Regions from separate parts of the Homo sapiens genome. Here region 1 is linked to region 2. A link means that fine-mapping ties the variant in region 2 to the expression of a gene that starts in the linked region. Tissue or cell type: thyroid. Region 2 holds a variant in brackets; the other region holds the start of a gene. All regions are shown on one strand. Distances are between the middles of the regions.

The links. PIP is the estimated chance that this variant, and not a neighbour inherited with it, causes the effect.
Region 1: SLC35F4-AS1 starts here. The variant in region 2 is fine-mapped to the expression of SLC35F4-AS1 in thyroid (GTEx, PIP above 0.99).

The regions. Positions count from the first base shown.
Region 1 is chr14:57,574,081-57,580,964 of GRCh38, reverse strand. It overlaps SLC35F4-AS1 (SLC35F4 antisense RNA 1), which reads right to left and starts at 2,632. Exons shown (of 2, transcript XR_007064193.1): 1 at 1,960-2,632. The region is part of intron 4 of SLC35F4 (solute carrier family 35 member F4); the gene reads left to right. It overlaps LOC105370519 (a long non-coding RNA gene), which reads right to left. Exons shown (of 5, transcript XR_007064194.1): 4 at 5,719-6,884; 5 at 2,685-4,667.
Region 2 is chr14:57,830,226-57,838,211 of GRCh38, reverse strand. All of the region lies in intron 1 of SLC35F4 (solute carrier family 35 member F4), which reads left to right. It also overlaps the pseudogene RN7SKP99. Among named protein-coding and RNA genes, the nearest start is that of SLC35F4, 32 kb to the left of the region's middle. The variant T/C (reference allele first, on the strand shown) is at 3,927.

The DNA.
Region 1 (6,884 bases), 260 kb after region 2:
GTTCCTATATTAGAATTAATTTTTAGAACTAATGGTGTGTTCACCTCCTTCTGTCCTCAGGAACGAAGGGTCTGAGAAAATTAGCCACTATAAAGATTATGGTTTGCATTTTTCAATCAACATATGTTGAGATGACCCCCCATTCCCCCCACCAGATGGACTTAATTAATATTGGTGTAAGTAGATAAGATTACCAAACAGTAATTAAAGTCACTGGTAATGGCACAATGCTGTTAAAAGTGACTATATATCTAGTGTGACTAATGCAGAAATGGAAGTACAAGCAACAACTTCTTTTGGATACAAATCCTTAATTGAACTGCATTAAACTTCCACCAACAACTTCAGTTCTGAGTTTATTCCTTTCAGGAGTAATATGGATTAAAAACATATATATTTATATGCTTGTTCTATGTTAAAAATAGATTGCTGGGAAGCCCTGAAGATTTAAGGAGCCAGATCTCATTCATATAATCCGGCATGCCACTATGATGAACATATTGAGACAACACTTCTTTAGAAGGAGGTATAAATGAATTGCCTTTTCTCAGAGTATCAATATTACACAACTTATCTTCTCTGAAAGAGATGTCCAAGATAGATAGAATTTGAAACATATTTTGTTATAAAAACATTGCTCTTATTGGCAATGATTCCAAGGTCCTTTCCCCCTCCCAAATGCTGAAACTAATGTCTATGTTAGAGAGAGGGTTTATGATGGTCATTAACCCTGAAAGATTTTCTTAAGAAAACAGTTAGTTAGACAATTCTGATTGTATCTTGGGAGATGCTGCTCTGAAATTTAGAAATGAAGCTTCATATTAATAAGTAGAAAGTTTTGATAGAAGACAAAATCAGAAACTGTGAGTCAGTCCATGATACCATTACAGTATATCCAAATGTGACACTACATTCTTTACTGGCTTATCTTAGATTTGACCCCAAAGGGCTCAGCATCACATATTTATGTCTGGGGCACTGGTGCTGGCTGTCTACCATCAGATACCCTGACAAGTCCTTGAGAGCTGGAAGCTTTCCTATATTGTCCACTGTTCTTTTCAAGATCTGCTACATAATCCATGGGGCCCAGTGCAAAATGAATATTAATAATTTTAAGATAACAACAACAGAGCACTGAGCCAAGGGTGGGGACCTTCCAAGCACAAGGCCCTATATATCAACATAAGTCATCCCCTAGGAAGTCAGCTGTCTCTACTTCCAATGTCTAGAATATTACAGGGCACGAAGTGGGGGTTCGATTGATATTTGAGGATATAGTAAATGAGTTCATACTTCTGAGATCTTTCTTTTCACTGTCTTTCACTATCATGGACCACCCATAAGAACCTGGAGAGCCTTGTCAGAAGAGGGGAGAAGAGAGATTTGGAGGCTCTTTTGTTCTTTTAGTGGCGTGCAAATACCAACATTAAATCCATATTTTCACCATTAGATATACCAGCAATAAAATCCGTTGTATTAAAGCAAATGAGCACATTTAACTCATGGACCTCACTGATGCAAGAGGTTACGTCCAAAAAGGTACAGTGTTTATTTGAGGTATTTTAGAGAAAAAGAAAACAACTGTGTAACTTATCTTTAAATAGCAGATTTTAAAAATCAAAAATCTGCCTATAGGCTACCAACCATTGCCATTTAAAATTTGCCATCTGCAGTGGGTTGAGTGGTGACTCCAAAAAAGATCTGTCCACATCTTAATCCCCCAAATCTGTCACTGTGACCTTATTTGGATAAAGGGTCCTTGCAGATATTATTAACTTAAGGATCTTGAAAAGGGGACATCATATTGGATTATCTGAGTGGGACCTAAATCCAATAACAAGTGTCCTTATGAAAGACTCACAAAAGAGACACACACAGAAGAGGAGGTGGCGGCAATGTGATCACAGACACAGAGATTGGAGTGATGTGGTCACCAGCCAGGAATGCCGGGACACTCACCAGAACCCTGGAAGAGGCAAGGACTGTATCCTTCCTTAGAGATGCCTTTGGTCCCAGCTGTATTTTGAACTTCTGGCCTCCAGAACCGTGAGAGAATAAATTTCTGTTGTTTTAAGTCACCACGTTTGTGGTAATTTGTTACAGCAGCCTTAGGAAACTAATACAGCATCTGTAATTAATAACACTCAGTAGAGGAAATGTTAAATAGCTAATAAGTACTTGTTAATAAATATATCCATAAGTGAAGACATCATAGATAGCAGAATAGTAAGCATTAGTGTCAGGCATCCTGTAAAAATCAAATATTTTTCTTTTTAAGTAAGAGGAAGTGCTTCACTTCTCATTGTGAAACATTAGGACATGTTCAATGCGATGTTCCGGAAGAATGGTAACGTGTAATTTAATGATGCCCATAATCAGGCCATGGAATGTGAGAAGCACTGAAACATATTCAGCATTTTGCCTTTGACAGTATCAGCAATTATTTTCCTCCCAAGACATATTGAGAACACATATAATTAGGTCATTTGAGAAATTAAACGAGGGCAAACAGCACTGACAACATAAATGTAGCTCTTATTGCCCACATCTATAAATAATCTAAAGCATAGCCCCTCCAGATGTCATCCCACTGGACTACTCAAAAAAAAAAAAAAAAAAAAAAAAAAAAAAAAAAAAAACAGTTAAAGGGATGCTTTCAGTCATCAGATTAAAATTTATATTTCTAGTTCATGCTAAAGCATCAGTAGTTTAGAAACAGATGTTTGTTGGATTATAATTTTCATATGCTTAGCTCCCCAGGAATGAGCACATTTAAAATGAGAAGCTATGGCCTTCCCTACTTCTAATTTTTTTTTTTAATGTAAAAAGAACACCATGAACAGAGTGAAAGACACTTTAAGTTACAACATCATAAATATGGGTTTATCCGGACCACAAGTAGGCCAGAATTACTAATGCTCACATAAAAATGAATTATGTATTATGAATAACTTGCTAATATTTTGTTTCTTTTGAACACTGAATTACAGATGGAAAGGTAATCTGTTTTACATTTAGTATGAAGTCATTTCAGCCCATTTATTGGTAATCTATGATGTGTTATAAAAAGCCCTTTCATGAGCAAATTGCTTGCAGCTAATCTGTGATCATCCCATGAAAATTAGTAAACTTCTTTAAAAGATAATTTTTTGATTGCAAAAATGTTAGAAAGTGATAATCCAGCTCTTGCAGCCTTGAAAATAGGTGTTCTCCTGTCTCTCAGACCTTATTATGTTTAGCTAGAGTTCTTAAATTCGTAAGAACCAGAGAACCCACCTTAATTTTTTTTTTTTTAAAAAAAGGTTCTTCCCAAGGGGAATGTGCCACTGGCTGGGAGCTTTCTTCTCTGCTGTTGGTATCTGTTTTACACCAATGAAAAGTAGATGCCAGACTAGAATGGTAGAAACTTTCTTTCAGATTTTGTCCCTCTCTTATTTTTTTATACTATTCATTCAAATTTTTCTTATATTTTCCAATTTCCTTGAAGATATGGAGAATGTTGGTGGTTGGTGGATGGTTCAGCAGATCCCAACTGTCTTAGCAGACTGTGAAATGCATTAGTGTCCCTCTGGCTTGGGAGCCACATATTTTCCAGCTATATTTGGGTCCCTGTGCAGTTAGTTAGCTTCCCAAACTATAGCTGTTTTCAAAGACTTTCCAGGATCTACCAAAAACTGACTGAAGTACATCAGTTAAACTGAATCTTTCATGGTATAGCATATACTTCTTTGAATTCAAATTGGGCCCCTGAAGGCTAAAACAGTACATTGGAGCTGAGCTGCTACTGATTTATGCTGATATTAAATATTAAGAATTAAGATGACACGTAACTTGACAATTTGTTTCCATCTTGCCTTTGGCTCCTCTTTATTCATGTGCAATGCAGAATTCTCTGCCCAGAGCTTCCATGCTTCCTGGAAGAGGCAGTGGAGGATGGACAGTGGGAGTCATCCTCCCTCTTACCCCTATCTTGGCAGGACAATGACTTATGAATATAGCCAAGAGAGGAGACAGCTGGGTTGTGCTGGCTGTCCGATTTTACACCCTCAAGGAATCTGTAACCCCTTCAACATGGTGCAGTCAATGTGTCTACCCTCCACATATATCCTTCACTCTTTCTTCGTGGGATTTCTTTACAACTTTGACATCCAGGTCTCCCTCTGAGATCATTTTCAAATGGATTTTATTCAGATAAAAATCCATGCATGTAGGGAGAGGGGGAGTTCAGAGGCCCAGCATCCCTTGGGTTTGCTGCTATCCAAGGTACCCCCCTTCCCCCTGTCACACACAGCATCTGGACAGCTATAGATTGCCACACCTCTTATTTTTCACATTTCAGCACTTGTTCAGTTTAATTGAATCTGAGTAAAAAAGAAAGTTTTCCATAGAACCTTAAATATAACATATGCAGAAGTTTAAGGATTCTGTATAGCCATAGTTCCTTGAAAATCAACTGTATCTAAATTTACCCAGAGAGATAATCATTAGCATGTTTCTCATTCGTCAAACTATTAATGTGTGTCCCAACCTCAACTACTGACCTTTAGTCTTCAACTTGAGCACAGCAGCTGCCAGCAGTGTGGTCTGAGATCTGCATTTTTAGGGGCTGCTGTAGGCTTTGGAATTCAAGGGTTCATTTGTGAACCAGCTGCTTCATACTCACCTAGCTTCAAGAAACAGAATTAGCCTCAAGGCAAAGTAAGGAAACATGTTTGGATTATAATCAGTCATCTTGACCTTTAAAATCTTAAAGGAACACTGTAGGAAGAGAAGCAACTAAAGGTTCATCCAATGCCTTGGACCCTAAAAGAGCTGGTACTGTTATGCAAATAAGAATTGTGAAAACCATCTGTGAGTGGGAACCATAGTGAATGGGATCAGGTTGATAAACCCTCATGGAGATGCACAGAAGGACCAAACCTTTGTGGGCTTTTGATGGCCCGAGCCAAAAGAGAAAAAGAAAAAAGAAAAAAAAAAGATACAAGAAAACAAAAACGGCCAAAAGCCAGATATTTCTTTAGGCTTTATCTGTACAAACTAATTATTTGAAAGATAAAAGAAACACCCTCCATGCAGGGTCACAGGTAGCATTTAGTACAGTGAGATCACCAAATGTCCACTGGTAAAGCCCTCTTTGGGCTTTAGGAACAGGCTCAAATGGCCACACGGATCCCTTCTGATTGGCTCTGAAAATTAGTGCAGAGAGCTGTCTGAGGGCCCCAGCCTGCAGAGGAAGATAGCTGGCTCACGAGGCCATGCCACTCAACTGGCATGCTGAGATAATGGGCTAAATAAATCCTCTTCCTTCAATGACTCACCCCAGGTGGGCACACCACAATGTGTGAGGGCAGAGAGGTTTAAACATTTTAAATGGAGGCATTGGCAGTTTTATGGTCACTATGGTTACTAACATTCTCACCTAAGCCAGGTTCAGATAATGGTAATGGTGAGTTTTTTTTTTCCCCATCTTTTTTGTTTGTTTTTGAGACAGGGTCTAATTCTGTTGCCCAGGCTGGAGTGCAGTGATGTGATCTCAGCTCACTGCAACCTTCACCTCCCAGATTCAAGAGATTCTCCTGCCTCAACCTCCCGAGTAGCCGGTATTACAGGCATGTGCCACCAAAGCACGGCTACTTTTTATATTTTTAGTAGAGATGGGGGTCTCGCCATGGTTGGCCAGGCTGGTCTCGAACTCCTGACCTCAAGTGATCCACCCACCTGGGCCTCCCAAAGTGCTGGAATTACAGGCGTGAGCCACTGTGCCTGGCCTAGTTTTCCATCTTATTTAGACACTTCTGGTTGGTTAAGAGGCTGGAACTGGAATAGATTGTCAAGAGACAGATTTTTCAGAAGCCGAGCAGGTGGCACCACTAGATGGTGTATTTTCAGCAGAAGAATTCCTCTCATGGATGTTAATGTGTCCCAGGAGCACTTTAGTGGTTGTCTTCATGTGAATGAACACATATGAGCATTTTTGACACAATATTTTAGGCACTGGCTTCCTGCAGACACATTTCCAGAAAGCTGAGGCCAAGAAGAGTCGTTTTGTGTTTTTCTGTTGAGAAGAACAGAGTATTAATCCCTCTTTGATGACTGATTGATTCTGAAAATGTGTGTGACTGATACGTGCTTAGGATATTTGTTCTCCAGACATCTAAAGAGTATTTACTCTCTAAAGTTAAACCAGTGGTGCCAAGCAGAGCCATTCTGAGATCACCCAAACAACCACTCCACAATTTTTCCTCATTTTCAAGATTAGTTGAGATCTCTTCCTTCACTTACAACAGTATAGATAAGAAATATATTTAAAATTTCTTAAAATATAGCCATAGAGAATTTGACCTATCAGATATTTTTGAAATTTAAACTAAAATGTGGCAAATAATTTATCTATTCCCACTATACCCTCCACCCGCACCCTGCCCCAGGAACATACTATATAACTTATGAATTACTGCTCATGTCATGGAGAATTTTTCTAACATTTCAAATATTCAGATTTTCATTCTTTCAGAACTTAACAGCATTGTCTGACCCCCTAAAGTGAAAAATGCTTCTCTCTGTGAAGGCAATTGAAAGAGACACTGCTGTAATTGACATGTCAATTTAAGTGGTCCAGGCTAATATTTTCACAAGCACTTGAATATAACGAGTAATGAAGATCTTTAAGAGGCTCACTATGGTTATAATTTTGAATTGCTACAGAGTTATGTAATCTTTACCCATGTTCAATTCCTATCTTGAGGAAACATAATAGAAACTTTATGCATATCTATTTTTACTAGTAGCTAACTCAGAAAAGGAAGAGTTCCTACCTGTGGTCATATCTTGGGGATAATGAAACCAACTGCCTGTCCTTTTCTAGACAGGATTTTGTTTTGTGC
Region 2 (7,986 bases):
CCAGGAAGAGTGGGTTCTTTTTCCACCTGAGCTCATAGAACCTTTATTATGAAACATTGCTTTGTATCTCTTTGTTTATTCATTTATTTCTCCACTGGCCTCTGTGTTGCTAAGGACATTAATTTTGTCTTGGTCATCTTAGTATCACCGGCATTAAGCATAGTACTTTACCTATAGGAAGAACTGATTAACCACTGAATCAGTGTAAAAGCACGGGACTCATATTCAAGTTGTAGATACAAGATATGGCAAAAAGATGGTAACCATAAAACGGAAAAGCATGTCAAAAATGTGGTGCTTTCCCTGTATGAAAGGGGAGCCATGGAAGATATTTGAATGTATGTGTATTGGGGAAGGGGAGGTGAGCAGTATTCTGAAAAATGTCTTATTTTGGCATTTCTTGAAGAATTGGTAATTTATTCACAGAAAAGAGTGCTTATGAGGAAGGACGCTCTAGAACCTGGCACAAAAGCCCCTTTCTAGGGAAGATTGGCTTTGGAGAAGTGGGGGGTATCTTGGGTGACAGTGATGGTTCAAGAAATGATGGTATGATATGTGACGGTCATCAGGATGTGACATCAGTCACCTCATTGATAGCAAGGTTCTATTCAGCCGGGTTGGCTAGGTTAAGTCCCCTTCCTCTCCTATACGCACGTGTGGTCCCTATCCCAGAAGCTGTGAGATTGGTCAAAGCAAGTGGTCTTTCCAATTGGAGGAGGTCTACCCTTGGTCAAAGGCATGCGAGTCTGTATGCTCCCCTATTGGAGCACTAGGAGAACTACAGTATTTGAGCCAAACAAACTTTCAAGAAATTTGAAAGTGGCTCAGTAAGTTGTGGGACATACAGGTTGTCCGTTTCTCCATCATACCTCCCTTCTGCTCTTTTCGCTGCTAGAAAAATTCTTCGCAATTAGGAATTCCATCAAGCCCTAAATTCTTTGATGATTCCCTGTAACAGTGTCTCTTGAAGTGTGGGACAGATATTCCTGGTTAAATGCAAGATTTAGGTGGTACTCAGACATGGTGTTAAATAATTTTAAATTACACAGTGAAAAATTTATTTCATTTTAAGTTCCCTTTCAATCCTTCTCCTTCTGACAATGAGGATGTATAAGTGGAAGACCAGTGTAACATTTTCTAATCTCAGTTTTTAGTAAGGAGAAGAGCCTTCAAGCTAAGTGTTCCAATTACAAGCATATCATGCCATAATGTTAATAACATTTTCTTTTAAAAATTTGTGGCAAATTATTTCAGTTTTTAATATATGACAGTGATGTAAAATTTTAATGTTCTGGATGTAAGATGATATTTAGGAATTGTTATTAATTTTTTTAGGTGTGATGATGGCGTTATAGTCATTATCCTTTACAGATACAAATTATATATAGATGGAAAGATATAATGTCTGTGATCTGCTTAAAGTAATTCAGGAAGGGTGTGCTTGTGTGTGTGCTGATGGAGGTGGAGGTAGCGGTGGTGCTTAGGGGAGTACAAAGGAAACAAGATTGGTCATGGGCTGATATTTGCTGTGCTGAGTACATGTAGATTAATTATACTATTGTCTCTATTGTGTATATTTCAAAGTTTTCATAAGGAAATGTTTGAGTTAAAATAAAATTTCAGGCCGGCGCAGTGGCTCACACCTGTAATCCCAGCACTTTGGGAGGCTGAGGCAGGCGGATCACGAGCTTAGGAGATCGAGACCCTCTTGGTCAACATGGTGAAACCCCGTTTCTACTAAAAATACAAAAATTAGCTGGATGTGATGGCGCATGCCTGTAGTCCCAGCTACTCGGGAGGCTGAGGCAGGAGAATCACTTGAACCAGGGAGTCGGAGGTTGCAGTGAGCTGAGATCGCGCCACTGCACTCCAGCCTGGTGACAGCGAGACTCCATCTCAAATCAATCAATCAATCAATCAATAAAATAAAAAATAAAATTTCAATGTTAAATAAGTTGATTAATATGGAACAATAAGTGAGTTCAGAGAAAAACTATTAAGCAAATAAGAATAATATGGGTGGTATGTAGGTAAGTCATTAGTTAAACTACTGAAGTCTGCAAAACACTGGCTGCTGGAAAACATTCAAGCTTCTCATTGAGAAATCAAAGGTCCTTCCTGCTACAGGCCTTTCTCACCTCCTTTCTTGCCACTTTGGATTGCAATAATACCAGGTCACCGGTAGTTCCTAGTGTGCCATCCTCTCACAACCTGCATCTTGATGCAGATGGTTCTGTTTCTTGGAATGTTTCCCAAATGTGTTGTTTAGAAAATTCCTGCATTCTTTAACTCTCAGCCCAAACAATGGAAATTAAAAGAAAGGAACATTCTGAGAACTCTGAAAGAGCTGAAATCATTTGGAGACTAGACATGGCTTGATGCCAGAATAAGAAGGAGCCAAGGGTAACACTTAGGTTTTAACATGGCAACTTTGACAGACTAGCGAGGCTGGAAGGAGAGAGGTGTTCGTGGGTGATCAGTGCTAAATTAAATTTTAGGCATGTTGAGTTTGGCCTGTCCTCCAGGACTCCAAATTATTACTAGCAGCAGAAACTGGGCAGGGGTCATTCCTCTCCAGCCAACTCTTGAGTCCTCAGTAATTACATGACAGAAATGTTATAGAGTCCTTTTGCTCCTCTTTCTCTTTCTTGTCAGTCACATTTTGCGTATTGTTCTGCTGACAATGAGAAAGAGCAAAAGAAGGGAGAGGATGTGAAAAGCAAATCAGTCATTTGTTGCTTTTTAGGAGTGTTGAGAAAGTCTTGGGGGTTGGGAGAGTTAGAAACTGTTGATTTATGCAAATTTTTCCATTATGACTGACTTCTGATTATATTTCCCATCCACTGTTTTATCTGACTTCCAATTGTTGAGAAGTAGCTGTATTAATGTGGCTTCACCACAGCTTGTGAACTGCAAGGACTCACTGGAGACATACTATAGGACCTACTTGGACTCTGTATCCTTCCAAATGAGTTGGTGTCTGGTGAGGAGGAACAATATGATTACAGGATCTGAAGGAGATGGGAGGGGCCCTTTTCTTCAAGCACGGGTTGCCCCATGGGCACAGTGAATAACACTGGTTCTATTTTCATGTTTCTGTGGCAAACAGCAACTTCTGTATTGGTCTGTTAATACTTCAACCATTCTAGTTTGGTTATTTTTGTTTTGTTTTGTTTTGTTTTTGAGACAGAGTCTCCCTCTGTTACCCAGGCTGGAGTGCAGTGGTGCGATCTCGGCCCACTGCAATCTCTGCCTTCTGGGTTCAAGCAATTCTCCTGCCTCAGCCTCCTGAGTAGCTGAGATTACAGGCATGCACCACCATACCTAGTTAATTTTTGTAGTTTTAGTAGAGATGGGGTTTCGCCATGCTGGCCATGCTGGCCATGCTGGTCTCGAACTCCTGACCTCAGGTGATCCGCCTACCTCGGCCTCCTAAAGTGTTAGGATTACAGGCATGAGCCACTGTGCCCGGCCTATTTTGGTTCTCTGAGAAGCAATTTTTATACTGACATGCTGGATAGGAAGGATTTGATCTAAAAATAACATTGTTCTTTCATCATACTGGGACTTCCATTAAGTGAATGACGGTTTAGTTATACCATTGTCCTTTCTAACACCTGTCCTAATATCTCCCCTCCCTTCACTGGCAACAGAAATTAGGTACCAGTTCTACTGAGATGTTTTGCAATTGTCATCATTTTACTTTGTAAGCAAAAAGCATGTTTTTCTTTGTATTTCAAACTAAGGAATGCATGATTACCACTTTGGACCTCCTTGTGAGCATAAGATTTTACACTATTTGCACTGTAATAATTTATGACATTTTTATAGCTTACTGTTAGGGCTTGTACAAAGTAGAAGGAATGAATCTGTAGAGAAAAAAGAAAAAAATGAACACACCAATGTGCTGTAGTTATTCAGTGAAG[T/C]GCAAAATCTTGCAGGAGTTAGTTTTGTTTGAAACAGATTTTACTTCTCAGTACCCACTCTTTCTCAATTTTTACCAACTCAGTCCTTTTGGTGTTGACATTTTGTACTCTGGAGTTTTAAGATGTCATGCTTCATGACTTGTTCTCTGGGAAAGTGTTTCTTCTTGAAATGTCGGGTTGCTCTCATCTTAGGTGGAGTTTGGGGTCAGCCTTTGTTATTATTTTAATTTATAGACTTTTAATAATGAGGGTTGTTTCATTTGTGTTTCACTTAATTCAGCACAAGGTTTTGTAAATAGCCTCAGATTTATTTTAACATGTGAAGAGAGGGAACAAAAAGATTCCTATGGTAAAATTAAACATTTTCTCAAATTGAGGCTGTTGCTTGGTTTCTGTTCTTGTTAACGTGCATTTAAAAAATTATTTTCTGTGAAGCTAGTCTTCATAAAGGTGATTTGTGAATATATGAAAATGCAAGAGATGCACTAAAGTTGCAGTCTCCATGGTATATTTAAATATGCCAACAGCTACCCTAATGAGCAAATTTAGCATTTATCCAAATTGGAAAGCCAACGGGAGATTAGCTATGGCCATGGCTGGAGTCTGTATTCAAATATTCATTTGATATTGGTTGTAACTCCGGTGTATCCTCCTGATGTTGTGGATAGATTTATGCCTGTCAATTGAGGAGAGCATTTCTCACTCTCTGATATGCATCTGAGTCACCCAGGGGAGGTTTTTTGAAGTGAATGTCTCCCAGGCCTTGAGCCCCAGAGATTCTGAGTCAGTCATTCTGGGACAGAGCCCAGTCTTCTGTGTTTTGATTCATCAGAATCACCTGGGGAGCTTTTACAACATACCGATGGCTGGGCTCTATCCCAAAACACTGACTCAGATCCTCTGGGGGTGCAAAGCCTGGGTAATCTGTACTGATTTTCAGAAAAGAATGAAAATACCAAAATTATCTAGCAGAGATGGTCCTTTACAAGCATCATTTAATGTCACAGGATGTGCAGAGCTAGGGATAGGGTTAAGGTAATCTCATTAGGGACCGTGAAAGAATATGAGAATTCTGTCTGTCTTTAGTGAGATTGCCTTGCGATTAGATGATAACAAGGATGATGATGGTGACAATGACAACAACGTGACAGTAAGCTTTATACCAGTCATGCTTTTACTAGCTCTAAATAGAGAACTTTTGTTCTTGTTCTTTATGCATATGTGATTTTAGTTTGCCTAATTAATGTTATTTCAGGGACACCTGCTCTCGTGTTCCTACAATATTTATCATTAAAGAAATGAACAAATTCTCTAGCAATTATGAGGACTTGGAAAGAATAAAAGTACCCTGGGTCGTGTTGGCTAGGCTGACAGAAAATAATACCTGAAATATTTCACCACGTTTTCTCAAGGGCAAATTTACTGTAATGTGAAAAAATTTTTTATCAGTGAGTGTAATTTTACACATGAATTACAGTTCCAGCATTCTATTTTCAATTGCTATGTTTACTGCATCAGAAATGTATAGGGAATTTGTGTTCTCTTTTCCCTCATCTCATTTGTAGAGCCAGAACATGCAAAAATTGGAGTTGGTAAAAGTATTGTGCTAGGAAGATCAGGACTTTAGTTATCATTCTCTGTTTATTGTTTCTAATAAATTGTATTGTATATATTTGAGGTTTACAACACAATGTTATGGGATACATATAGATAGTAAAATAGTCCTGTCATAAAGCAAATTAACATGTCTATCATCTCACATAGTTACTTCTTTTTGTAACAAGAAAAGCTAAAATTTATTTATTAACAAAAATACAATATAATTTTCTTAACTATAGTCCTCATGTCATACATGAGATTCTAGGCTTGTTCATCCTACATATTCTTCTTCTATGTATTAATCTGTGACTTTGGACAAGCTACTTAAAGTCTTAGGGTCTTATTTTCCTCATGTATAAAGTGTTAATAATTTATCTGAAGGCAGGTGACTAGAGCAGTTAAACTCTTGAAGCCCATTCTGCTGCAAGTTCCTGTACTGAGTCTGCGGAAGGCAGAGGTGTGGCTAAGGCAACGTCAAGTGATGTGGGGTGGGCCGGGAGGGAGGGGCTTCAGAGCTCAGGAAGGCTGTATGTGCCTCCTAGCGTCCTTCAACCCTGGCCAACTTCTCCAATCTTGCTCCTGGTTGCTATGGTTTTTCCACATCTTCTGGTTTGTAGATTCATGAATTTATTAAATAATACGTGATAAAGCCTCAGTGGGACTCCTGAGTCATTTGTGAGGGATTAAAGACAATTTTACAGAGTTCTTTGCTGGCTTGGAGAGTTGCAGTGCTCAAAAACATGACTTGTGAAGACACGGATATACACTTATGATTAGGAAGCATTTTAGTAAAACATTCATGACTATTTCCTGCATTTCTATGGAAAAATAAATTCAATCACAGTAGGGTTTTTCACTTCATTGCTTATTAGAATGCATTCTTCTGCCTGGATAATATAAAGATAAAGTTAATGTTTCTTCTGTTTTGCAAAGGTGTTATTGGACCCACAAATATGCTCTGGTCTCTCAAGGAGAAAAAAGCTCCAAGGTTTTCACTCTTTAAATTACTGAAATAAAGGGAAATGATTACATGGTAATATTCCCTCTTGCTGCTTGAGAATTCCACAGAAAACAATAACACAGGATAGATTATTTACTGTGGCAGTTTGTGAAACATAGATTGCTGCTGTACTGCAAATTCTGCTTATCTCTTAAGAGCTGTCTGTACTGGGTGGCTTTAGTTTGTCCCTCCAGATTCACGCTTGGCCCTTCTCCACCCTCCTCTGTCCTGGGAGGCTATGCTGTATGCCTGCGTCTATCACTGTCTTGGTCAGCTTGGGCTGCTATCACAAAATACCAAAGATTCTGTGGCTTAAACATTGACATTTATTTCTCACAGTTCTGGAGGCTGGGAAGTCTAAGATCAAGGTGCCAACAAACTCTGTGTCTAGTGAGGGCCCTCTTTCCGGCTTGCAGAGGCTGCCTTCTCACTATATTCTCACATGGCAGGGAGAGAAAGATATTAGAGATACTGTGGAAGGAGAATGGTAGAACTTGGCATCTGTAAGAAGTCAGGAAAGGAATGGGAGGAATCGAAAATCACCTCCCTGCTCTGCTGGCCTGAGTGATTGGTGCAGAGTAATGGTGTAGAAACAGAAATGGGAACACAGTGAAGAAATCAGAGTTGAGAGAGAAGATGATAAATTCTGACAGAGCATGCATACCATGTCCCACCAGCATTCAAGAGCAGGGATGCATTCTATTTCATTTTTGCACCCCCAGTGCTTCAAATAAGTGCTGGTGTTCTCTATACAAGTGCTGTTGAACTTGCTCCACAGGTAGTCTGTGCAGAAATGGGCACTGTGTTCAGTTAGGGTGAATTTCTGATAAATTGGCTCTGGGTTTTTGATTTTGGGGTCACAGAGAAAGTGTAAAAAGAGTGTGTGATTCTTTGTCTTGCAACACCTCCAGCCATGGTCTGTTTTTGTAACCAGTGACAGCTTCCCTCCTCATAGATAAAGTTGGTATTTTACAGAATATATCAGGCATATACCATTTTCCCATTGAAGGTAGGTGGTCTGAAACTGAGATCTGAGCAGAGCCATCCAGAACCATATTGGCTCATTTAATTATGAGATTTTAAGTTATAGGCTTCATAAGTGAGTTTCCAATCACTTTGCTCTTTAAATTTTCAATCTTTCTCATGCTAGACTTCAGGTTTTCTAAGAAATATCTTTTAGGATTTCCATAGCATAACATAAAATTGGGTTGTAACTTCATATTTGGGGCATATTCTAAGTTACTCTTAGACTGTAAGAAGTATTTCTCTTGTCCGAAGCTAGGGAGATCCAAATAAAAATCTCCTCGGATATTATAAAGGAAGTGGTAGTTAACATACATTATTTCATTTAATCCTCACAGTGACTCAATGAGGTGGCATTACACCACATTTTCTCCGTTTTACAGATCACGAAACCAAGGATTACAGAGATTGATCAATTTGACCAAAACCACACAGTTG